5 separate regions of the Homo sapiens genome follow, and regions 1, 2, 3 and 4 are each linked to region 5. Evidence: fine-mapped expression QTL. A gene starts in region 5. Each other region holds a variant in brackets. All regions are shown on one strand. Distances are between the middles of the regions.

What was found. PIP is the estimated chance that this variant, and not a neighbour inherited with it, causes the effect. A credible set is the group of variants that fine-mapping cannot tell apart.
Region 1: its variant is the best candidate, but not a certain one, in a credible set for the expression of NTM in fibroblasts (GTEx, PIP 0.75).
Region 2: its variant is the best candidate, but not a certain one, in a credible set for the expression of NTM in testis (GTEx, PIP 0.60).
Region 3: its variant is the best candidate, but not a certain one, in a credible set for the expression of NTM in lung (TOPMed, PIP 0.86).
Region 4: its variant is the best candidate, but not a certain one, in a credible set for the expression of NTM in lung (GTEx, PIP 0.81).

What each region holds. Positions count from the first base shown.
Region 1 is chr11:132,006,385-132,011,490 of GRCh38, forward strand. All of the region lies in intron 2 of NTM (neurotrimin), which reads left to right. Among named protein-coding and RNA genes, the nearest start is that of NTM-AS3, 110 kb to the left of the region's middle. The variant G/A (reference allele first, on the strand shown) is at 2,097.
Region 2 is chr11:131,500,481-131,505,586 of GRCh38, forward strand. The region is part of intron 1 of NTM (neurotrimin); the gene reads left to right. Among named protein-coding and RNA genes, the nearest start is that of NTM-AS2, 38 kb to the right of the region's middle. The variant T/C (reference allele first, on the strand shown) is at 2,174.
Region 3 is chr11:131,294,511-131,299,616 of GRCh38, forward strand. The region is part of intron 1 of LOC124902794 (a long non-coding RNA gene); the gene reads left to right. Among named protein-coding and RNA genes, the nearest start is that of NTM, 74 kb to the right of the region's middle. The variant T/C (reference allele first, on the strand shown) is at 2,333.
Region 4 is chr11:131,333,306-131,338,411 of GRCh38, forward strand. No RefSeq gene overlaps it. Among named protein-coding and RNA genes, the nearest start is that of NTM, 35 kb to the right of the region's middle. The variant A/C (reference allele first, on the strand shown) is at 2,221.
Region 5 is chr11:131,367,783-131,372,888 of GRCh38, forward strand. NTM (neurotrimin) reads left to right here and starts at 2,833. Exons shown (of 9, transcript NM_001352005.2): 1 at 2,833-3,106. The coding sequence starts at 3,025.

The sequences.
Region 1 (5,106 bases), 640 kb after region 5:
AATGTTTCAATCTACATAAAAAAGAGGAAAATAATAACCCAACAATGAGAAGAGCCAAGAGAATATGAGAAGGCAGCCTCTTTTTGAAATAGATTAAAGGCTTTATTGCAAGAACATCGTAGGACAAAGGTGTCTCTGCAGGACTGGGAACTTCAGCAAAGCACATAAAACCTCATTCTCAGACTTAAAGACAGCCCTGGAAGAGGCAGTCCACAAAGCAGTGTGTGCCTAGGCACCTATTCTAAATTCAGGAGAGCTCTGCAGTCATTTCCTTTGGGGGTGAGGCTTATGAGGCTGGTGTAATCAGGGATATAACTAGGAATCTCCTCCAAAGAATGAGTGTAGACCAGGTCAAACAGAACTATTGTGATGCATTTGTCCTCCACAGTATCAGGATCTCAAGCCCCTTGTCCTCTGTGGTTATAGAATAGCCTGGGGCACCACTGTGGGCCTATGGTGATCATGGGTGCCACTTCCTGAGCACTTCCTGTGGTAGGATTGTACTTCCTCCTTTGTGGAGAAGAACATTGACTAGTGCTGGCCAATGAGAGGCAGCTACAAATGACGTGTGTCACCCTGTGGGTGGGCTAAACATTTTACTTCCAGTGCGAGACCCTCCTGGGCACTCTCTTTCCTCTGTCATGACATCCAGTGACTTTCAAGACTGTGACTGCCCCACTGGGGGTTCCTGAGTGAATGGATGAAAAAAGCTCCTCCCTGTCACACCTGTGATGGATGTCTACTGTGAATGAGAAATAGTCACTGAGACTTTCATGTTGTTGACGATTTCGGCATAACCTACTTATCCTGACTGTTACAGAGTCTGATCTTAATGCAAAACCTAGCCAGGAATTGAAGGCTTTTATTCAGTGGCCCTTTATTTTTGAAGGTGAACATTCTACAGGGTAGTTTGGATAAGTGGCAATAAGGGAATGGTGCTCATTCATCCCAGGATCACTTAAGAGCACAAATAAGACCGCCAGCTGATGCCAGGCTGCACAGCAGGACACTAGGTCACTAGGAGAGTCAGGAGGGCATAACTCCTGCTGAGCGTTACGAAGCACAGCAACTTGTGATTTGGGGCCTGTCAACAGCTATGGACTCAGTAAACAGCCCTGAAATGTGAGGTTTCCAGGCAGATATTTCTGATGCTCTCTTTTGTTGCAGCCTGCTTTGCTTTATTTATGCAAAGAGTGTATCCCTGGGGGAAAAATCAAGTCATATCATAAGTGCATCAGAGAAGCTTACTATTTAAAGAAATCTATGGTGAATCCTTTTGTGAAGGAATAATCATCCACCTGATTTGCATTTGCTTTGTGAATTGTGTTTGTGTATCAGGTTTTATGAGTTTGGGGCACATCATAATTCAGAGCATCAAACATAGAGTCCAACAGAGCTGGATTTTCATCTCAGGTCAGCTAAAACACAAAGCTTGCCTTTGTCCTGGGGGACAAAGTGAGGGGCCAACTGAGGATGAATTTTTTGCCTAGAAATCTCTGCAACTTGAGAATGGAGGTAAAAGGTAGATGGTGAGAATAACCCTGGATGGAGTTAGAGTTGATATAAGGGAGGTCAAAGAAGGGAAGGGCTATGAGGAGTAGAAAGGAAAATGTTAGGTGGGCGTTGCTTCGATTTTAGAATAAGCCTTATACTGTAACAAGGAATTTGGGGAAATACACCTAGTCCTCTGTTCAGGCCCCAAATGAAGCAAGGCAAGAGGGGGCACAGTGTGACTAAGCAGGGAATTGGGGTTAGCTCTTGACTCCACTGTATGGGGATCATGACGTGGTGGACTGTTGTCTAAGACAGATGAGAGAACAAACGCTCACTTTACCCCTCGCCACTTATGGGATGCATCTCTTTGGACAAGGTTTGCATTTGTAAAATTCTATTGTCCTGACTTTAATCTTTCTGAGTCTTGGTTTTCCATCCATATGCTTAAGGTCTTTGTCCCTCCTGGCAGGACTTGTGTGAGGATCAAGAGACCATGAATGTCAAGTGCCTAATATAGCTGACCTCAGATAGGACTCAGGAAATTAAAACTATCAATATTGCTGACTATGTATTTACTTTTTTCTAAGATTCTGAATGTTAAA[G/A]CGTTAGTATAGTGTGGAGTCTATGACAGGTTTTTATAGATATTTGTGGAAAGAATGAACCATCTAGTAGCCTAAGAAGTGTGGGGAATGAACACCAGATGTGAGTGCTGAGGGGTTTGGAGCCTCTGTCTGTGAATCTTATACCTTTCCTCCCTGGCATTACAAATGCTCCCCATTTCCCCCTGAAAACATGTCTGTTTCACAGAATCCACATTGCTCACAAAGATTAAAATCATTTTCAATGACTCCATGGTTTTTGTTTTTTTTGTCCTTTCTGTCTTGCCACATCAGGTTATCTGACCGTTTGATTTCAGCAACTCAAAGAGCTCTTCATTTTTTTCCTTTCTTTCCTTTTTTCTTTTCCTTTTCTTTCTTTCCTTGTTTTCTTTTTTTTTTTTCCTGTTGTCAGAGCCCTAGGAGTTTCTTTTCCCTTTTTAATTAAGAGCGAATGAAGGTAACAAAATGTTTTATAACTGGAGAGAATTCACCAGCAGGACACCAAGGCAGAAATCCACATCCTGAAAGAAAGGCAGGCAGACACCAGATCAGCGCTGTGGGGAATGTGTCCTGCACACACTCTGCTTCCCGCTGACTGATGGTCCAGCCCTCCCTCTGCCATCAGCCTGGAAGCTTTACCTCTGGCAGAAGTCTCCCTGTCTTTTGTTAGGAAAAGCTACAATTGGAAACCTGCTTTTCTAAAGCATTTTTAAACACACAGTGTGCTCCCCTGAAATACGCCTGTGCCTGCAAGAGTCCTGTAAGTTAATTCCTGCCACCCAGGGAAGTGTCCTAATTTTCCCTGACTTTTACTGACCTACTCCTCATTGTGTACCTGGCTGTCTTTAAGCTGGGGGACAGTTTGAGATTGGAACAGCAAATTTCATGGGAGAGCCTGTCAGATGGGTATGTATGTGCCGATGTAAAGCCAGATTGAGCCTAAGAGAAAGAGTGTGAGCAGAAGAAAGGGAATAAAATCCTACTGCAGACAGTGATGTGGAAAGGGATGTCGTTTCTGGCACTGACACTGTGCCTGGTCCAGTGCCCTGGCTGTGCCATCCCGGCAGCTCTGAGGCTTTCTGACAGTCCTGAGAATGGAGCACAAGCCCCCAGGGACGTCTTTGGAGCCCTAATTCCGGTGCACTGCTTTCGTGCACTCTGTTTTGCACGCCACACTTGGAAGATGGCATTATAAGACTGCTTCCAAGGAAAGCGTGCTTTTATTAAACTCCTAGACCAAATTGCCTCCCTGTTGACCTCTTTCTTTGTCATGAGACGTGATGGGTTATTACATTTGTGATTAAAAACATCCGTCATCGGTGTGTTTTGCCTTTTCAATTTTGTAGGAAGGTGATCATGATGCTGGTTCTCAGAGGAACAGAAGGATGGAGAAGAGAGACCATATTTTGTGGTTTAAGGAACTTGCCCCTCAGAGAAGGTTACCCTTTTTTTCTGAGTTCACTGCTGAATGTGTGGCTCAAATGGCCGTGGAAGGTCACTGAGCTGACCGAATACACGTTATATCAATTCTGCACAGCATGAGTGAAGAAAATGGACAGACAATTTCTTAAGTCACTAGATTGTAGAGATCAATACAGATAATTTTGGAATTTTTAGAAAATCCAAACACTTATCCTCACCACGGCTGTTCATGTAATACCTCAGCAGCTTCTTGCTTCATATTAGCTTTGATCTTACTCTCTATTTGGAACTAAGTGTTTCAGAAATGATTTCTCCCTCCTATAAAACATACTGAACACAGAACTGAGTTCTTCAAACTCAACTTATGTATGACAAAGCTATAGCCCCAGCTTTTAGCTCACCTTGGTAACTCCGATGGTGGAGAAGACAAGGATAAGGATTTCTTTTCTCTGAGGCTAGACTGGTGAAGTTATAGGATGACAGATACAGTCTAAAGGTCAGTCCCTGGCTGCTCTTCCCAGAGACCCTCTGCCTCATACCTTCCCAGCCTCTAGTCTCCAGTCTGCTCGGACCTCTGCTATACTTCTTTGTGCTAGAAGAGTGATTTGGTCATGTCTCTCCTCTCCTTGAGCAAACCTTAATGAATTTTCCCTCCAATGGCCAGTCCTGTCTTATCTTGGCATTTGAAGCTCTTTATTAAGTGACCATTTCTACTGTCTTTTTTTTTTTCCTCCATTCTCTTCTGCTAGGCTCTAATATGAACTCTTTACGGCAACTGATGCTATCACAGAAGGACCTCTTGTACTTGCTCCAGTCTGGGGACTTGGTCAGGTGTCTTTCTGTCTCCCTGTAAAGCGTTTCCACTCTGCATTTTTGCCTATCACAATTGTACAGTTTCCTGAAGGCACAGCTGTGTGCTATCTCTCTTAAGAATTCCCTGATGGAAGTATCATTTATTGGTGCCAAGTGACTGAGGTTATATTCGCAGCTCTTGGACAGGGCTCCTAGACTCCCCTTAGTCTCAGTTACTTATCTGTGTATAACCACTAAGCACCCTTCATCTTACTCCCATAAAATGAAAGTGACCTGATATTTACATGTCGATCTCGTATGGGCATTATCACAATGTATGCTCTGTGGCATTGAGTTGTTTTCATACATGTTAATTATAAGCACCAGCAAGCATGGAACCATTTCTTATATGATTAATATCCCTTATAACAATTAGGTCTACAATTTGTAAAATTTGTTCCATTAAATATGTGATTGAAGAACTGAATAAAGTCACCTCTAGTGAAAATTCTACTTGATATTGATACTATGATTTGAAAAATAATAAACTGAGAGGGGAACTCCTTGACAACAGTTTACTGCACTGTTTCTAACATTTAACTTGAAGTATAAATAAATGGATTTTAGCAAATCAACCTCTCTTTGAAGTTAACTGAATGCTAACTGTGTTCTGGAATGAAAGGGTTCATGCATCTCTGTTAAGAAATGGAAAACAGATAATGGCAGCGGAGTCAATAAAGTCAGTGCCTCATCTTGAACTGGGTGAGCGGTCCCTAAACATTTGTTACGTAGTTTCTTC
Region 2 (5,106 bases), 130 kb after region 5:
GATGAGATAACTGAGGCATAGAAAGGTGAAGTCATTTGCTTCAGACCCTATAGTTATTTATTATATATATATATATATATATATATATATATATATATTTTTTTTTTTTTTTTTTGTATTATACTTTAAGTTCTAGGGTACATGGGCACAACGTGCAGGTTTGTTACATATGGATACATGCACCATGCTGGTGTGCTGCACCCATTAACTCATCATTTACATTAGCTATATCTCCTAATGCTATCCCTCCCCCCTCCCCCCACCCCACAACAGGCCTCGGTGTATGATGTTCCCCTTCCTGTGTCCAAGTGTTCTCATTGTTCAATTCCCACCTATGAGTGAGTGAGAACATGCGGTGTTTGGTTTTTTGTCCTTGTGATAGCTTGCTGAGAATGATGGTTTCCAGCTTCATCCATGTCTCTACAAAGGACATGAACTCATCATTTTTTATGGCTGCATAGTATTCTATGGTGTATATGTGCCACATTTTCTTAATCCTGGATTAAGAAAATGTGACCCTATAGTTATTAAGTGGTGGAGCTAGAAGTCAAATTCAGATGGTCTGACTTCCAGACCTGCCTAGTTACATAACCACAATCCAAATTCAGATGGTCTGACTTCCGGACCTGCCTAGATACGTAACCACAATCCAACCAGAGGGCAGCAAAATCTCTGCCTTCAAGGGGTTTGCATTCTGGGGAGGGTAACAGACAGCTTAAGGGTGAATAAAGGCAGGAAGCAAATCCTGTCTGTCAAAGAGTGGTGAGTGTTGTGAAGAATGTAAAGGCAGGAGGGGCAGCCTGGGGGCTTTGGCAGAGGAGGCGATAGCTGTTGGTAGGGTGGCCAATGAAGGCCCCTCTGAGGAGGTGAGTTTGGGGCAGATGAAAAGGAGCTGTCTGTGTAAAGAGCCAGGGGAGAATGTTCCAGCCAGGAGAAGGGGTTGAGGACATGTTTGAGAATTGCTCCTGGGCTGGAGCCTGGGTGTGAGGAGGAACATGCAGGAGATGATGCTTAGAGACCTCAGGCTCTATTCTGAGCATACTGGGAGCTACTGGAGGGTCTTCAGGAGAGGGAAGCTGTGATCTGATTTATATGTTCAAAAGGTCAGGCTGGCTGCTTTTTAGAGAGACCAATGACAATATTTCTGCTAGTCCAAGTAAGAAACGATGGCAAAGGGGGCTGTTGCAGTGAAAGCAATGCAAAATTGGGTAGATCTTGAGTGTGCTGTAAAGGTCCAGTTACAACAGCATTTGTTGCAGAGTTGGATATGGAGGGAGTTAGAGAAAGCAAAATCACTGGCGATTGCAAGGGTTTTGGCCTGAGCAACTGGTTGGATGGTGACACCATTTATTAAGATGGAGAATACCAGAGGAAGAGAAGGTATGTATGTGTGTGTGAGTGTGTGTGTGTGTGTGCACATGTGATCAATGGATGAGCCTGGAATCAACAGTTCTGGTATGAAAGTGTTAAGTTTGAGACATCTGTTAGACTTCCAACAGAGATGTCACAGAGGTGACTGGGTCTATGAGTTTGGAGTTCAAGGGAATGGTGAGGCTGGAAACATCAGCCTGTAGATGGTATTAAAGTGCCCAACTAGATGAGTGCTCACAGAGAGAGTGTGGAGACAGGGCGTGCTGCTGAGGTCCCAATGTCTGTGTCCCCTCAACATTCCCATGTTGAAATCCTCACCCCCCAGAGGATGGAGTTTGGAGGTGTGGTCTTTAGGAGGTGATTAGGTCATGGCAGAGAGGCCTCATGAAGGCATCATGATTGCTGCCCTTATGAAGGAGCCTCGAGAGAGAGAGAGTCCTTGCTGCTTGAACCAGGACGTGGGATCTCACTGGACATGGAATCTGTTGGCACCTTAATCATGGACCTCTAGCCTTCAGAACTAGGAGAAATCAGTTTCTGTTGTTGAAGACACACAGGTTATGGCATTTGGTTAGAGCAGCCAAAACTGACCAAGACCTGGAGATCTGGGAAAAAAGGGAGAAGAGACCAGAAAATGAGGCTGAGGGGAGGCAGGAGCTGGGAGCGGGGGAAAGTGCTATCACAGAGGCAAGTTGACGAGGGGTGCAAGAGAGTGAGGAGTCGGGGCCCATGCTGCTGCATTCCCCGGCGTCTCTGGCATCCTGACCCACACCCCAGGCTGACGTGGATGCATATCGCTCAT[T/C]GCCTGCTCACACATGTCAGGCATTTGCTTGTTGTTGAAGTCATCGTCTGTAACTAAAACGTAGCCTCCAAAAGGCAAGGACTTTTGCCTCCCTTGTTTATTGACAGATAGATGTATCCTTGGCACCCAGGACCAGCCCGGCACATCAGAGCTGTGTAACACAGCATCTGATCGAATGCTTTTGTTGCCTGAGTGCAGGGTGGAGGACGAGAGACCTGAGATCAACCTTGGCTTTGGCAGGGCAGAAGTCATCATATCCATGGCGAGATGTGATTCCCTCTGGCTGATGGAGATCAAATCCTCACTGGATTCTGTTCAGGAGACAAGGGAAGATGAGGAAGTACAGACAGAGGAAACAGACAACTTTCTCAGGGAGGTTTATGGGTCAGAGAGGAGAGGGACTGCAGTCAGGGTCAGGGAGGCCTTGGCTGTTGCCTCTTTATCTCCAGATGAGAGGAAATAAAGACATTTGTGTGCAGAGTGTGCATGCCCACAGGAACTCTCCAGTAAGGGGAGCCGTTGATGATGAGGGTACAAAGGAATGAGAGCTGATGTCCTGTGCCTGGGGGAAGGTGTGGAGGACTATGCAATCCTGTGCACAGGTAAGGGGCTGTCTGCAGGTAGACCAGCTTCACTCAGCAGAAATAAGAGGAGAGGTTAGAGCAGGAACATGCAGGGTAGATCTGGGGAGGATAAGGTTGAGTGTTGCAGTTTCCATCTGATTGTTTCTGGCTCTGCAGTAATGTAAGAAGTGAGGTCCTCACCGAGGAGGGTCAGAGACAGCAGAAGGTGGAGGAAAGGAGAGCAGGTGCACCAGGAAAACGGACTGGGATCATTGGGTCGTGTCAAGTCCACTTCATATTTGAGGTTACAATTTTTTTTTTTTTGAGACAAGGTCTTACTCTGTTGCTCAGGCTGGAGTGCAGTGGCACAGTCATGGCTCACTGTAGCCTTAACCTCCCAGACTCAAGCAATTTTCCCACCTCAGCCTCCCAAATAGCTGGGACCACAGGCACACTCCACTATGCCTGGCTAATTGTTTCTCTTTTTTTTGTAGAGAGAGTCTCACTGTGTTGCTCAGCCTGGGCTCAAGTGATCCTCCTTCCTTGGCCTCCTAAAGTGTTAGGACTACAGGTGCGAGCCACCACGCCCCACTGAGGTTATACATTTAAACTTAAGCTAAGTGGCAGGGTTGTGCGTGTTTCTTTAATCCATTTGGCTTCTCTATTAGAGGTGAAGTTAACTGGGGTAGGAATTAACTCAGATGCCATCACCAACCCCTACACTGACTACCTTTGTTAGGGTCATTAGTGCTTTAAGGCCAGGCGGGTCAGAGCATGAAGTCCAAAGACATGGCCTTATAAGAATTGGATTCCAGAAAAGGTGCTGATCCAGCTGTCTCTGACCCACACTTCTGAGGACTGCTCATCCAGGGCTCCCTGGCCCCACCAGCTTCCTCCAGGCCCCTGCTTCTGGACACTGTGGCTTGTCCCTCCACATCCCCCTGCCAGTCCCCTTTGAGCCCCACCAGCCACCTCTGTCCTCACCCTTCCTATCTCTGTCTCGCACAGCGCATGCCTGAATTCAGCCTGTTTGGGTTGCCTGTTCCCACTCTGACTTGCAAATGCAGACCCCTTGGGCTCACATTCTGGAGAAAACATAAACACCTCTCCTCTGTTGGCATGGGGATACCCTCAAATTTGGTGGCTCTCGGCTGCCCCCACCTGCCATAAATCAGATAGGACCGCAGCTACCCAGCTCAGCCCTGGTAAACCCCTTGGGGCTTGGCAGGAATGGCTTTCCCGGATCGAATTTCTTGGCAGAGAATTGGAAGGGATTTAAAATAACTGAGCACACCATACCACCCGTTTCCAGCTCCAAATAGAATTTGGAGTCCATTTCACACAGCGCTGGGGTTCTCTCACCCACAGATGGTGTTACCAAAATTGTGTGTGCTGCTGCTCTGTTTGTCTCTAGGCTTGTCTACCTCGACCTGCACTGCTGGCCTTTCCAAACTCTTCCTGGCCTGCGTGCTCCATGGCCATCTGGGTGTCAGCGTGCCCTCACATGTCTGTCAGCTGCCAGACTCCCTGGATCTCTGTCTATTGATTGATCTGTAAATTTCCCGCACTGTGCATCCATCAGCCGTCCACCCCCTCCACTCCTCCTGCATGCACATATGCCTGCCTGCACCCCGCTCCAGCCTGGAGGAAGCTTTCTCTCCTCTTTTGGCAATTGGCGGTCATGTCTCAGAATCCACAATATGTTGATTCTTTTCAGAATCAACACACCCTCTCCTCCGCACTATCTGACCTGGCTGGACAACAGGCAGAGGCTGTTGACATGAGTTGAGGGTGCTGCTCTATACCACAGTGGGGTATACTGCAGGGGAAAGAGGTGTGGTCTCAGAGTCATGAAACCTACCTTCTACTTGACCATTGGGAAGTCACGAATCTCTGAGTCATTCTCCTCATCTAAGAAATAGGGGTAATATTACCTGTCCCACAGGAGTGGTTTGAGGATTTGATGATGTCTCTGTGAAGCTCAGCTCACAGCACAAAGTAGGGATTTAAAAATGCTCTTTAATCTGTGGTCTATGGTAACTATCAAACAAGTAATGCTAACAACGATCATTTATTGAATAATTATTCTCAGTGTGTTAAGGACTTTATATATTTCATTGTGTTTAATTTTTGTAAGACTTAATGACTTTGATCATCAAAGTATGGTTCCCCAAACAGCAGCCTCAGCATTACCTGGGAATAGTTACAAATGCTGAATCTCAGTCTCCATCACCAAGCGTTTTCCATCAGAATTGGCATTTTAACAAGATTCCCAAGATGTTGAAAGTGACATCCTGCGATTATTTACCCCCTTTTCACAGGTGAGGACACTGAGACCTAAACTGGGTGCATAATTTGTCCTGGATCACA
Region 3 (5,106 bases), 73 kb before region 5:
TCCTCCCTTTAATGCTTCCTCCATCCCTTCTAGAGCCAGGTGTTCCGTGTCTCAGGGTAGTGACGGCCTTTTAACATATTGAACATGTCCTGAATTATCTCAACACTCACATTAGTTACCCCAAGCTCCAGATTAATCTTTTCCCAGGATGGTTATTGACAATCTACTCTCAGTCTTTGCCTCCTGTCTCTTGATTTGTTTTGGATTTACAAGGAGACTCTGTTTTCAGCCCTGAGGTTGCAAATGAACTCATTCCTCTCTTTGCCTGAATCTTGGCCCCTTGTTACTTACTGAGTGAAAATGGCCCTAGCTTTGTTTTCAACTGGCTTGGAGGACAGCAGGGAATAAGACATGACAAAATGTCAAGAGGCCTGTCAGGAGAAGGGAGACCCTCAGATATGGGCCCCTCTATCCTGTGTCAGTCCCTATTATACCTGCATGAAGATGTTTTAGAATTCTGGGAGAAAAGGAAGAAGGTTGCCAATTGCCTTAGGATTTTTGGCATAATTCTTTTCATCTTAAAACAATGTTTTACATGTGAAGGCTGTTGTTTGAAGACTTGTCTGAAGCTGGTTTTCTTCATTAGAAATATAAACAGTCATTGAATTACAACAGGAGCACACTGTAATTTAAGGTAGAATTGCAGGAGGGCTGGTCCATGGAACAGGGGTTTTAACCCTGGATGGGTTAAAAAAGAGGCTGCACATACCCCTCCTCTGCTATAAAACGGGAGAGATTTTATTATTATTATTGTTATTTTGAGACAGAGTCTCACTCTGTCACCCAGGCTGGAGTGCGGAGTGCAGAGTGCAATGGTGCGATCCCGGCTCACTGCAACCTCTGCCTCCCGGGTTCAAGCGATTCTCCTGCCTCAGCCTTCCGAGTAGCTGGGATTACAGGCGCCTGCCACCATGCCGGCTAATTTTTGTATGTTTAGTAGAAACAGGGTTTCACCATGTCGGCCAGGCTGGCCTTGAACTCCTGACCTCAGGTGATCTGCCTGCCTCAGCCTCCCAAAGTGCTGGGATTACAGGCACCCACCACCATGCCGGCTAATTTTTGTATTTTTAGTAGAAACAGGGTTTCGCCATGTTGGCCAGGCTGGTCTTGAACTCCTGACTTCAGGTGATCCGCCCGCCTCAGCCTCCCAAAGTGCTGGGATTACAGGTGTGAGCTACCGGGCCCGGCCTAAAACAGTAGAGTTATTATGTAATGTCAATCATTGTCTTTCTTAGCATCCCTTAGCTATAGCCACTCACGCTTCCTAATCTGAGTGTATTCCTCCCTCCCTACCTCTTGGCTAGAAACAGCAGTGGAATGGCAAGCTCAGGCCCATTGGGTGGTGGAGAAGAAACTGCAATGATGAGCTTGGGATAGACCAGCAACTCCAGATACCCACCAAATTTCAGCCTCCTCTCCCTCTTCCCAACAATTCCTACACGGTGTTCAATCTGGAGGGTGGATTTCCTGGTTTTTACATTCAGAGCTAGTGTTCATTTTAGAACCAGGATCTGTTTATCTGGGCTTTGCACCTACTCTTTCTTACCAACCTCCTCCAGCAAGGGCTGAAACGGGCTTCATTCTTTAGCCCTGAGCTAGGTCCCATTGTGAGTGGATGATCCCTGTGCCCAGAAAGCCCAGTTGCTATTGTCATCCTGAGCACGTGCCACCAGTGCCTATGTTGGGCACACGGACAGGACAGCTGAGCTGCCAGCTACCAGAATCACATGAACTTCTTCCTGTCAGCCTTTGTCGTCCTCTTTCTACAGAGCCCCCAAAACTAAAAGCCTGAGCTTGCTCTGTAGCTAATCCACCTGAACCATGAGAAATCATATCTTCGTGCATGAACTTTCAGATACATTTAGAGCCAAGCTTTCTGTAATACCCTGGGCTACCATACCTGAGGAATATGGCCACATGCACAGGTGCTGGGACAGACATAACTGGATTCGAGTCCTGAGTCTGCACAGGCAGTGTCCTCAGGCAAGTCACTTCCTTTTCTGAGCCCTCAATTCCTCAACTGCAAATGACATAACGAGACCCACGTTCACAGTGAAGCAATGCATCTGACACACTCAGACTAGTGCCTGGTACACAGTAAGCGGCAATACAAAGTACTCATTATATTACCATGCATGATTCGGGAAGGTAAACCTTCTGTTTAATCCTGTGATACCTGGCTGCAATTTAAAACATAGTTTTAAACATTGAAATAAGCAGAGTTGCATTGTGAGCAGAGTACAACATTCATATAAATCTTTCAGATAAAACAGGTAACTTCCCAAAACTTTCTTTCTGCTGTGCGTTGCTTTGGGCTCCCCCTCTGACAGCC[T/C]GAGGGGAGAAGCTTTTTTCTCTGCTCTTCAAGGTATTTCAAAGACTTCGGTAATAAACAATAAAGCTTAAGTCAGAAAGGGAAGAATACAGGAAATACATTTGCAGAGAGAAGATCAATGTGTTAGGTACGGATGGTTAAGAAGGAGGTTTAGATTATTTTTGGCTCTTTTTACACAGACATTTACCCCTATTTCCTTGGTCATCTCTGTCCAGCCCCTCCTACCAAACAAATGCTCCTTTCAGGGCTGTAGGGAAGATATTGTGGGAATTGTTATCTGGAGGGAAGCTGGTTTGGAAGCTTTGAGAGTAGGAATAAGTTTCTGAAATTCTTTGGACCTCAGTTTTCTCATCTGGCAAACGGGATTTCTAATACTTACCTCACAGCATTGTGGGATTAGATATACGTCTCTAAACTACCACCCACGTTTCCCAGCCCTACCCAGAATCAGAGCTGTTACCAGCCTGGCCACAGTCACCTCCACCATGACCTGGGCTCCTGCAACATCCTCCCAGTCGGCGTCCCTATTTCTGTTCTTTCTCACCCTGCCTCCAATAACCAGAGTCCAGCCAGCACATTTTTGAGGAACTGCACTAGCTTCGTACCTTTTATCTCTTGCAGCCCTCTTTTGGCTTTGCATTATGCTTGGAATAAAATCCAGGCTCCTTACCAGCATTCGCCCAGGCTGCCTCTCCTCCTCATGCTCCAACCTTCTCCCCAGGACCACACTTCACTTCTTTATGTTCCTGAGCACATTCCTGTCCTAGAAACTCAGCCTGCCAGCCCCTCTCCCAGTTGCCCTTTGTTCTGGCCACCTTGAGGCCGATCCATTCACATCCTTCGAGTCCCAGATGAAATGCCACTTTCTGTGTAAGACAGAAGGCAATGGAACCCCAGCGAGAGACGGTGAGCCCTGAACTAGAGCTTCTAGCTGATTTCCCTCCTCCTGGCCTCACTCTTTTCAAACCCAGCCTCCTCATGGCTCAGAGAAAGAGAGCTGAAGCATGAACGCATCACTCTTCTTCTTAAATCTCCTAATTCCTCCCCGCCATTTGGAGGATAATGTTCAAGCTCGTGAATTTGGCCCGTAAGACCCGCCACAACGCTTCTGCAGCTCCAGCTCCCTTGTGACCATCTGGCCACAGCCCAGTCTGTTTTGCTTTCATGCTACCATTTCTCAGTTCGGTATCTTTTGTTCATGTTGCCCTGTGTACCTGCTGTGCCCCCCTGGCACCTCCTCCAGGAAGCCAAGCCACCCGGTTTGCCTCAGATGCCCCTCCTGGTATCCCCATCAATCTCTGGGCCTAACCTGAAGCTACCTCTCTGCTTAGTGTCATTTCTTGATGTCTTTATGACCCTAGGGTCTCACTAGACTCCTGCTTCTCAGCATCTCTGCACTGCCCAAGGTGCACAGTGCACCCCTGGAGTGTTACTCAATGTTTGCTGAATGAGTGAATAAATAAATGAACCTGTGATTCAATAACAATCTATTTCTTGGTGCATTTGCTTCTTTGATTCATTTTGGGCATTATGAACTCTCTTCTGCTTCGCTAATATAACCTAATGTACATACTCATCTGACTATATTTTGGTCAGCTAATCGATTCTGTTTGCTACTCCCTTGTCTTTTATGTGGTTCTATGCAGCTGTGTGAAATGATACCCATAGCTGTCATTTATTCAGCACTTACTCTGTGCCTGACACTGTTTAAAGGCTTCTTTCCATGTGTTAAGTCTTGTAATTTTTTAAAGAACCTTCTCAAGGAAGTATTATTATTATCATCATTCCCTGTTGTAGATGATAAATCATAGGCAGAGGGCATAATTTCCCCCATCATGCATAACTGGTACAAGGCAATACCAGTCTCGGGGCCTATGCACTGCTGCTCTAGGGCCTGGCACTAATCACTGGATGGCATTTTCCTTCTTCTGCCAGAACCAACCTCTTCTCTCGGTGAGGCAGCCCGGAACATCACTTGTCCTCATTTTGGTGTTCATAGGACCAGTCCGAGGCACATTTTGTGTTTTCCATGTTCACATTTGTCCTTTCAACATCCTTGTTTTTCCTTTTTCTTACCTGATGCTGTCATATGACTCCTTTATGCTTAGGGTAGTGGACCAGAATAATCTGGAAGGCCTCTTAAAGCACAGACCATGCATCGCACTCCAGACTCTCTGATTCAGGACGTCTGTAATGGGGCCCAAGGTCGGGGGCTTCTCACAAGTTCCCAGGTGGTGCTGCTGCTGCTGGTTCGGGGGCTGTGCACTGAGACCTATGGTCCAAGGCCACTTGCAGCTCTGCCCTACCCCACCTCCCCAGCACATGGCCTTCCATGTTCTTTTCTGATTTTCGCACTCCCAGTCTCCAGTTTTACTTGTTCTAGTGCTTATGGCCCCAGGGATTTGCTCTGGCCCCTGAACACTTGATATATGTAAAAGTGTTGTGTATAGTTAGGTATTTTGTTACCCCAACTAAGTAGCTGATTTGCTTCTGTCTGGAAGGGTGGGTGGAGGGCATCCTGGGTGGAAGGAAGAGGTAGGCGAATGGGTGATACTCAAGCTCTCACCTGCATGCATCACACCATGTTGGTAAATCTTTCCCACCTCTGTGCAGGTCTGGCCTTGGCAGGGATCCATGGAAGTAACCGACAACCCTCCTTTTCACCCACAGTTCTGCAGAGAAGCCCAGCCTTATCTATGCCTCGTTCTTACTGCACACCACTCAGGGAATCACATTAAAGCAAATAATGAGATTTGCATACAGACATTAGACAA
Region 4 (5,106 bases), 34 kb before region 5:
GGAACAGCAAGGCTGAGAGGATCTCATCTAGCATCCTCATTTGACCAACCTGTGGCACAAACCTTATGAGCAGGAGATTTTCCCAGAGCAAGAGGAAGAAATGATAACAGCAGGTGAACTCACCACCAGCATTTGGGTTTCTGCTGCGAGTGTATTCACTGCTCCTGAGTCCACACATCTTCATTAAAACCTCGTCATGCATAGCGAGCACTGCTGAGAGAGCTTGTCATTTTACAATGCTCTTGTGCCTACATTCACCTATGTGAGAGTGACTACCAGGTGTGGGAGTAGGGAAGCCCAGCTCCCCCGTGGGCACAGCTCTGAGGAATGCCTTACCTGAGGTAAGGCTAAAGCGAGCCTCTGGGGTCTCCTGCTTGTCTGGTTTCTCCTCTTCCCTGTCCTGTCCCTCTACCTCCAATGGATCCTTCGGGAGCTCTTTCTTAATAAATCACTTGCATGTGATGAAAATAAAACATAAAACATGGCATGTTACCATATCTCACACTGTTTAATAGCTACTTGTGTGGCAGCAATCAAGAAATGGGGGGGTGGAAGCAGTGGGAGAAGTTAAATCACAGCCCCTCGTTTTCTATAACTGGAAAGTGTCTGCTTTCGTGTGCACATATTATAACTCCTCATTTAGTGTTCTTAAGGATACCGCAAAGGAAATCTCAGATAGGCACAAATTAAGTAATTTTTTTTAGATAATAAAGAAGCTGCCCAAGAAATGATTAATTGACAAAGGAAGACTTCTAAGAAGAGGTAAGTTCTGTGTGGACCGTACAGAAAGCCCCAGAGTCAATGGTTGGGCATCATTTTTTTCCATGGTCCTTTAGAGTAGGCTGGCCAGAGTGCTGAGCAGCTGTGGAGAGATTCCCTTGCAGATCGTAGTGTGGGTCCTGCCTAAGATCCAAGGTAGAGTGGACCCACCTCTGGGGAACTTCCAACTTCAAAATGCCATAAGTTTTTGCTTTTGCTTCTCATTTTTACTGACTGAGCCAGTAAGTAAAACATAACATTCACATACAACCTAATGATGTTTAAATACTTGAATGTCTATTATTTCTCTGATCTTCTCAATGCACAAGTGCATTACTTAGTGAATGATGAAATCGGGTCAGAGACAGAAGGCAACATTCCCCAGCTCACTCCCAAGCTCTTGGATAGTTAAGTGGCGGGGATGTGGGGGAATCTGCTTGTTTTGACTGTCTAACATTTCCTCCAATATCATGATCAATACCTTAATTTAGATGTTCCATGGGTACATCATAATTCTAATGTTCATTCCCATTTCTCTAAAATTATTTCTTGCTCCCAGATGATCCCCACTCCTTAATTTCTTATAACCATTAATGAAATAAAAAATGTGGAATTCAGCCTGGATCCTTCTTCTTCATGATGCTCATGGCTACCCAATCATTAGTCATCATTTCTAGGCTCACTTTTCATTCATAAGCCTTTTTCTTCTTCTTCTTACTAAGCATGTGTTTCCCATTTACATTCCTGCCTGTCATCAGGTTTGTCCCCTCACATCTATCCTCCATAGAGTGCATTTCCACTGAAAACTGTGCAGTGGCTTGCCACATCCTTCAACAGAATGAGGTTGGGGGTATGGGGCTCAGGCCACTCACTGCTTTCCCCTAGGAGAGGCCTTGCAGGAGAAACAAGTCTACATAGCCTGAGGGCTCCCAGACATAAAGTTTGAAAGTCATTGGCTTAGTGAATAAGACTATCTTGCTGTGACCATGGCAAGCTCCTCCAAGACCTGGCCTCGACTTCTTTCCGTCTCATTCCCTGTCACTTACTGTCTTCCAGTTTACACTGCATAGGTAGAAAAAAACACTGAGAAAATATTAAAGATTATTTTTCTATATTTGTTTTATAGATGAGACTATCATGACATGGCATAATTAAATGACATGCTCAAGGAGACACAGCAAACACATGTGTGAGACAGCATGAGCCCAAAGTTCATGCTTTTCCTCACAGCATGGCACCACCCGACACCTCCAAGGAGGAATATTCCTGAGCAAAGTCCAGGATGCACTCTGTTTAGAGAAAATAAAGAATGCCAAATATTTAATTCTGGCCCTTAGAGAATCCAAATAGAAACACTTAAGTAACCTTACATGTACTCAAATAAAAAGTGCAATTAATACAGCTCTGAGAAGGATGGGTTCCTGATGTATAAAACATTGACTTTACAAGGTTGTGAGGATT[A/C]AATACAATAATGTATATGGAAGGCCTCTGCAATCTTGAAAGCAGAGAACAGCACAGGTAACATGGATGAATTCAGCTATCCAGGTGAGGACAGGGAGTGCCGATGAGTACCTGATCCTTTTAAAGAACCCAAAGCTACTCAGTTCTAACACACCTTTGCGTGAGACTCAGAAAGAAGGTTCTTGGTGTGGGTAACATTTCTGAATTCCAAAAAAAAGTCTTCCTATTTTTAAATAGTGACAATTTTTAAAATCACTATGTGGGTCAAACAAAACTTTGGGAATCATGCAGAAGGATTTGGCCATGAGGGTGACAGTTTGCAACCTCTGCCTGGTTAAGGGCTTCAGGGATGTTGGCATTGTCAAGAGAGCTGAGTGGAACCTCGCAGAGCAAACTACCAAAAGAAAGGGAATTTGGAATCAGACTGGGTGTCCTCCCAAGATGCTCTAATTTTAGTGTGTCCAGAAGAAGGGGAATAACGATTGTCTGTAGATAGGAAGCAGACATGATAGGTGAGAATCATCAAGCAGGCAGAAAATTAGAAGAGTCAGAATCAATCTGCTCTTTAGAGTCAAAGGACTCAATTAAGGTGGAAAAAAATAAAGAGAAAACTGAAATCAATGAGTTCCAAATGGTTTGTTTTGAACCCTGGCTCCAAAAGGGAGTCACATAAAATGCTGCTAATATCTTTTCTAGGCACTTTAGTCTGTTCACTCAAAAAAAAAAAAAAGAAAGAAAAGAAAAACAAAACAAGATGCTATCTTCATGCACTTAGTTTTCTAAAGGACTCATGAATTGGATCCTGTCACTCTACTACTTAAAACCTTTTATGATTTCCCATACTATATCCAACAAGATAAAAGCTAAACTCAAAAATGTCAGCAGATAACCAGAAAGTATAAAACATTTTCAAAAGAATGAAGTGGAAAATTAAACGTAAAAAGCACAACAAACCTTTTTTACTTCTAATTCTCATTTACCTAGTCTTCCTCATGCTAACTGATGACAATTCTGTCTGGCTAATTGCTCAGGCCAAAAAACATAGAGTTGATGCTGAATCCTCTCCCTCTGTTTCACCTCATAACCAATCCAGCAGGAAACTCTTGGCTCCACCTTCAAAATATATCCACAACCCAAACACGTCTATCATTTCTAATACACATACCTGGACTCACCCAACATCTTCTCTCACTTAAATTCTTGCAGTATCTTATGCTTCTCCTCTTGCCCCTATATTGGTAAGAATAGGCTATATTATGCTCCAGAAATAAGTCACACCAACTTCTCTGTGACTTAACTACCAGGGTTAGTTCTCACTCACTGTCACATTCGGCATTGGTTGGAAGAGGAGCTCTGCTCACCATAGCCTCCGCTGGACCCAGACTGACAAAGCTGCCCTCGTCACCAATCACACGGTAGAGGCCAAATTGCCCACAAGCCCCTAAACCTTCTACCAGGAAGAGAAACCTACCACTTCTGTTTGCAGTTCTTTGGCCAAGTTAGTCCTATGGCCATGCCTAACTTTAAGGGAGAAAGAAAGTACAACTTGTTCATGTTCCAGGAGAACCAGAAATAATTTGCGGGCAGTACAAATGACTATCACACCTCCCTAGAATCTGTATTAAATCCAATAGACCAAGTAAGTGATCTTTTTAAAGTCGTAAGCCAGATGATGTCACTCTTCTGATCTCCATTCCCCCAGAGTCGAAGCCAGAGCTCCCAAGATTGGTACATGGTGCTGCCTGATATCTGCTGCCCCATTACCTTTCTGGCCCAACATGCCCCACTTTCTACCCCTTCCAATCCCAGTGCTGCTGACCTCCTTCCTATTCCTCAAGCAGGTCAGGCAGGCTCCTATCTTTTAACTTAGCACTGGCTATTCCTTCTGCCTAGAACACTCTTCCCCAAGTATATGCACAGCTATCTCCTTCACAACCTTCAAGGTTTTGCTTAAATGTCATCTTATTTAAAATTGCATCCATACATCCCTTTGTTTGACTAGAGAATCCACAATATCCAAGCTGCATTTATTGAGAAATTAGCTTAATCCCTTAGAACTTCAATATCCTCCCATGTAAGATTAGAATGATAGGGCTCACCCTGCTAGACTATCATAAAGATGGAATAAAAAAGACACACACATGGTGTTATACTTCTAGCTGTCACTAAACATGAGGCTAGTCTCTCTTGCCCATCCCCAAGCATAAAATAGCATAATGGCCACTTAATGGTCTTTCATAGAATCCCATAATTTTGGAGAATTGGAAGAGATATTTAAGACCATCTAGTTTAGTCTTCCCAAAGTATCTCTGTATCTCTACTGATGCTAACCAAAACAAAACAAAGTAAAGCAAAAATAAAACAAAACCAATACAAAACCCCCAAATCCTAGGGCCAGATAAGTTGAGAAAAATGTTTCTCCTATTTATAGTCAGCTGTTGGACACTCAGAAGTCACATTAACATATTAAAACCTCCAAGAATTCTTGGAGTAAAGAAACCTTTCAACTCTGTTTAACCCAGCATCCCCCAAACTTAATTGACCACAGCACCCTCTTCTTTTTTCTTCACATTAATGCGCATTAACACACTGTAGAACTAATGTTCTGTTGAACACAAGTTGAGAAATCCTAAGCTAGTCTAAACCTCACATTTAATCGAAGACTAAATCATAGGCCAGAGAGATTAAGTGTTCAGTCCATTGTGACCCAGAAACGGTATAGGATTGTGTGTTAATCCATTCTCACCCTGCTAATAAAGACATACCCAAGACTGGGTAATTTATAAAGGAAAAAGGTGTGATTGACTCAGTTCTGCAGGCTTAGGGAGACCTCAGGAAACTTACGGTTGTGCCAGAAGGGGAAGCAAATGCATCCTTCTTCACATG
Region 5 (5,106 bases):
GCTTGATATCTATTTGAGTCCCTCACAGTATTTAGCACAGGATATTATTATTGAAGTTGATCTAAGATGAAAATGCTCAGGTTTAAATCCTGATTCCATTCCTTAACTGTTGTGTGGCTGTGGACAAGCTTTTTCTGAGCCTCAATGCCCTCATTTATAAAATGGGGATGATAATATCACCACTTCATAGGTTGTGATTATTTAATGAGAAAAATGCATGCAAAACACTGAGTATCATGTCTAGCACATTGCAAATAAATATCAATAAATATCAACTCCGATGATTAATTTCTTATTATCTGTACACACCTGGGAGCTTAATAAACATTGGTAACTGTATAGATTTATTACAGTTCAGGGTAAGGACATTTACAAATGTTATTGTCCACCTCTCCTGATTGGGACTAAAGACTTACCAGTGGCCCATGATCTTTATCATCGTTCTGGAGAGAAATGAAATGGTGGTGAAAGGAAGCCACCTTCCTTCTGCACTGCACTGTTATCACCTGCCGTCACAGTTGTTCCAAAGCATTTAATTACACATGTCACTATGCTGAGCACCGCACAAAAAGACTCATCTACAGATAAAATTCTTGTCCATTGGGAGCTCACGATATCAAGGACATTTTGATAGATATGTGAATTAGAACTTAATGGCAAGAAGAAAAAAAATACCAGTTAACATAAAACATCTTTAAAATGAGAAGGAGTATAATAAATTATTCCAGTTCTACAATTTTATAGACAAGAAGCCAAGGTTCACAGAGGTGAAAGGACCTGCCTGAGGTCCCTTAGTTGTGCAGAACTATGAGAAGGATCTTGAGGTCCCCAGATCTTGAGGTCCCAGGGCCCCTTCCTCTCAAGGTCACAAGATCCCACATTCCAGGCAGTGTTGTCCCTATTCATACACAACACAAGGTAAACTTGTGGGAGGCCAAGGCTGGAAGGACTGCTTGAGGCAAGGAGTTTGAAACCAGCCTGAGCAACATAGTGAGACTTCATCTCTACTATGTTGTAGAAAATTAAAAAAAAAAAAAAAATAGCTGGGCATAGTGGGTAAGGCAGGAGGGTTCCTTGAGCCCAGGAGTTCAAAGTTGCGGTGAGCTGTGATTGCACCACTGCACTCCAACCTGGGTGACGGGGCAAGAGTCTGTCAAAAACAAAAACAAAAAAGAAAGAAAAAAGAAAAAAGCCAAGGTAAATCGTACGTCTTAGACATGTGCAAAATGGCAGTGATGTTTTCATTTCACCTCTGTACACTAAAATACAAACAGACAATGAGTACTTTTCTTCTATGCAGTTTGAAAATACATGAACATTTTTATGGGGTTACAAGGAAGTATAATAATTAGCGGTGGAGTTCTAGAAGAATATTTTTAAAATGTGTGTCAAGGCATAGTAGGGGTATGAATGTGTCAGAATTAGCTAAGGAAGGTTCTGTGAGAAACTACATTTTCTTTTTCTTTTCTTTTTTTTTTTTTTTTTTCTTGAGACAGGGGCTGGCTCTGTCACCCAGACTGGATTGTAGTGGCGCCATCTTGGCTTACTGTGATCTCCGCCTCCCAGGCTCAAGCAATTCTCCTGCCTCAGCCACCCAAGTGGCTGGAACCACGGGTGCGCACCACCAAACCCAGATATTTTTAAGGAATTTTTTAGTAGAGATAGGGTTTCACCATGTTGCCCAGGCTGGTCTCGAATTCCTGAGCTCAGGCTACTGGCCTTCCTTGGCCTCCCAAAGTTGTGGGATTACAGGCGTGAGCCACAGTGCCCAGCCAGGAGCTACATTTTCTAGATTTTTTGTTCACATCCTCTAACTTGCTTCTCATAAGGGGAAGCCAAAGATTAGAATAAACTTCCAGGCCCTAGAATTAGACCTCTTAAGAAATCATTTATGTCCATTAGATTATTTCTGTTCGGTTTTTATTCTTTCCTATCACCAAGGAGGTTAATGTCTTCAACTGTCTGAGGAACTACACAAAGTTTACACTCAGAAAGCCCCTCCGCATGTCTACCCTGAATCTTTCTCGCTGCAGTTTAAATCACAGATGCTTCTATGATTGCTTTAGTGGATGTGGATTGACCAAGTCATGGGGAATAAACTCCTGCTTTGTTTTCTTTTGAAGAAGGTTCTCCATCTTCAGACTATAGAGCTTCTTCTCAAATACCAGGTACTTTGTACCTTTCCATTGTATCATATACACATGGATGAATTTAGGAAATTGACTTCTAAAAAGTGAATGAAAAAGAGGAGTAACATAGATGTTCTGAAACAGAAGTGACAGGAGGAGAAAATAGAAAGTTATTTACTATTTTCAAAGCAACTAAGTAGAAAGGTTGATGAAAGAGAGAAAAAAAAGCTGTCACTGAATGATATTTCCATTGGAGGGGAAAATAGGTACCAACAAATGAAAATTGCCTCATCTTTACAAGTTTCACTGAGCATGAAAATGTCCCTTTAAAATTTCCCATAAGCCATGGCTGGCTATGGGATTTTTCCAGTGCAAAGGGAATCTGAGTTCAGGAGGCCAGGGAATGCCAGGGGGAAAGGGATTTTCTGATACTCAGAAGACTCAGAGACTGTCAGTTTAAAAAATGAAAGTAATATAGAAGGGGCAAAGTGGCATTTATCATTCTATCTCTCCAGGCTCCTGTCTCTTTAATCAGCTAGCCTGATTTGCCCAGTAAATGATTCCTGAGAGTGTGTGTGCGTGTGTGTGTGTGTGTGTGCCCGCGCGCGTGTGTTGTAGCTCTGTCAATCCTTGGATTAGAACCAATGATTGCAGCTTGTAGGAGGGCTGTCCAGGGCCAGATTGTACAATGTGTCTCAGTGCCAGAGTATGAGTGGAGATAATTACGGAGAAGTCATACTCTCTCACACCCTCGGCTTTCTTGTTGTGTCCTTCAGCAAAACAGTGGATTTAAATCTCCTTGCACAAGCTTGAGAGCAACACAATCTATCAGGAAAGAAAGAAAGAAAAAAACCGAACCTGACAAAAAAGAAGAAAAAGAAGAAGAAAAAAAATCATGAAAACCATCCAGCCAAAAATGCACAATTCTATCTCTTGGGCAATCTTCACGGGGCTGGCTGCTCTGTGTCTCTTCCAAGGTAAGAGCTTGCTATTGATTTGCCTTCGGTAGACCCAGGAATTGTACAGTGTGCTTTATAAGATTTGCAGACTCCCCGAGTCGGCTGTGCTGCGCTGTTTGCAGGTGGAGGAGAGAGCGTTTAGACAGCATGGCTGGGACTTCATTCTCCCGACTAGGCTGTGAGAATATTGATTTGATTCTGGCTGCTACCGGAATGGGGGAATATGTATGTGCATAAGTAAAATGTGTTTGGTGCTCCTGTTAGGACTGTGCTTGTGTGCAAGGCTCCCTGGCTTCATGCACATTCTTGCACACATACACAACGGAGCACACATGTAAGCAGGGGGAAATGACAGATTCGGAGGGCAACAGGGTTGCTAATGTGTTGCTTATGCGACTGGGAAGAAATTACAAGAGGAAACTTTAAATATCGGCCAGCGAACTTGCAAAGCTTTTAAAAGGAGCAAAGGGGAAAATGCAGGCTAGAAAGAATCAGGTGCTTCCTGTGAGGTTCTGGTCAGCGATCCAGCTGCAAGGGATGAGTCAATTTGCAGCAGTGGGGGACAACTGTATTAGTTTTAAATGTGTTCGGGGGTGTGTTTGTGGCTGGGGTCGGAGGTGTGGAAGCGAGGGGAGCCGGGGCTCTGAAATTCTAAAAAGCTTTTCGAAGTTGAAGGGAGAGAGGCAATAAGAGTCGAATGCTAATTTTCTGTTTATTTATCGGCTGAGCCGGGAGCCCTGGGGGCTGCAGTTGAGTGCAAGCTTTGATGTCCCCAGTGCTGTGTTCTGTGCATTTGGAATCGGCCTCCACCTTGAGTCCATTTGCTGCACCGTGCCTCCCCACACCCCATCCCGGCTCTCACGTCTGTTCGTTCCAGCAACAGAATTATCCACTAATCTTCTTGCTCCCACCTGCCCTGTCCTTTGGGGTAACTAGTTTGCCTCTTTTATATTAAACACAGCTAAAACTCGTAAGGATCGAGACAAGCTGAGAAACTTTCCCAGGGTGGCCCAGCAGGGCTCCGGGAGGAGGAGCCCTCTCTTGGGAGGTGAGGCTCAGTCCTATGCAGTTGTATTCCCAGAGGAAAGTTCCCTCTGACCCGGTGAAAAACGATGGGGAGTCCCACCCCCTCGCCCTCTTCTCCCCCTGCAATATGGAGTTCTCCTGATCTGGACTGAGTCCTGAGCTGTAGTCCTGCTGGCTCTTCTCCGAGGTTAGGATTTAGGGATTGCTGCTGTCCTCTTGACATAGGTTGCAGTGGCTGCAGTGTGGATCCACGTAAGGTGGGCAGAGAGACCAGGCTGGAAGGATCAAATGTGTACACCCTTGACTGGGGCTCGATGAAGAAGGCAAGGGGTGGGGACAGGAGGGATCTGTGTCGGGTGATAAGGAAGTCCAAGGTGGTGAATCTTGCAGGGATGTCCATGATGTCGTCTGCTGCACCCAACCCCAGGAGGCATGGGCCTCAGGATTCCCTGCTGTCCCCTAGGGGCTTTGGTGGGTGTTTGAGTGAAGGGAATCAACTTGGAGGCATCCTCGATTGACTCCTCTTATATAATATGAAGCAGTATCAGTGTGTGTGTGTGTGCGTGCGTGTGTGTGCACCCCTGCTTGTTCTGGGTGCACAAGAATGAAGTGGGGAAGCTGAGTTCAGGATCGGGCAGTTTCGGAAAAGCAGTTTCTGTGGGGGTTGACAGCAAAAATGAAAACTAAGCAGGCAAGGGGTAGGGTGAGGGGTCAGAGGTAGGGAGAGGGAAGGTCCCAAGCCCTCAGTCATTTCTATCTGTCCCGAGATCCATGTCTCTTCTGCCTGTAACATCAAACTGGAGACAATGACCAAACTTCCACCATCAACAGCCCTGCTGGCTGCATGCCAGGAGCCCCAGGGCCATACTGAATTTACATATAAATTAGCATACGTGATTTTTTTTTTCATCAGAATAAATGCAGGGAAGCATAATATTTGCTCATACTTTGAATCATCTCTGAATAGATGAGTAGCAAAGTGGTGGTGCCAA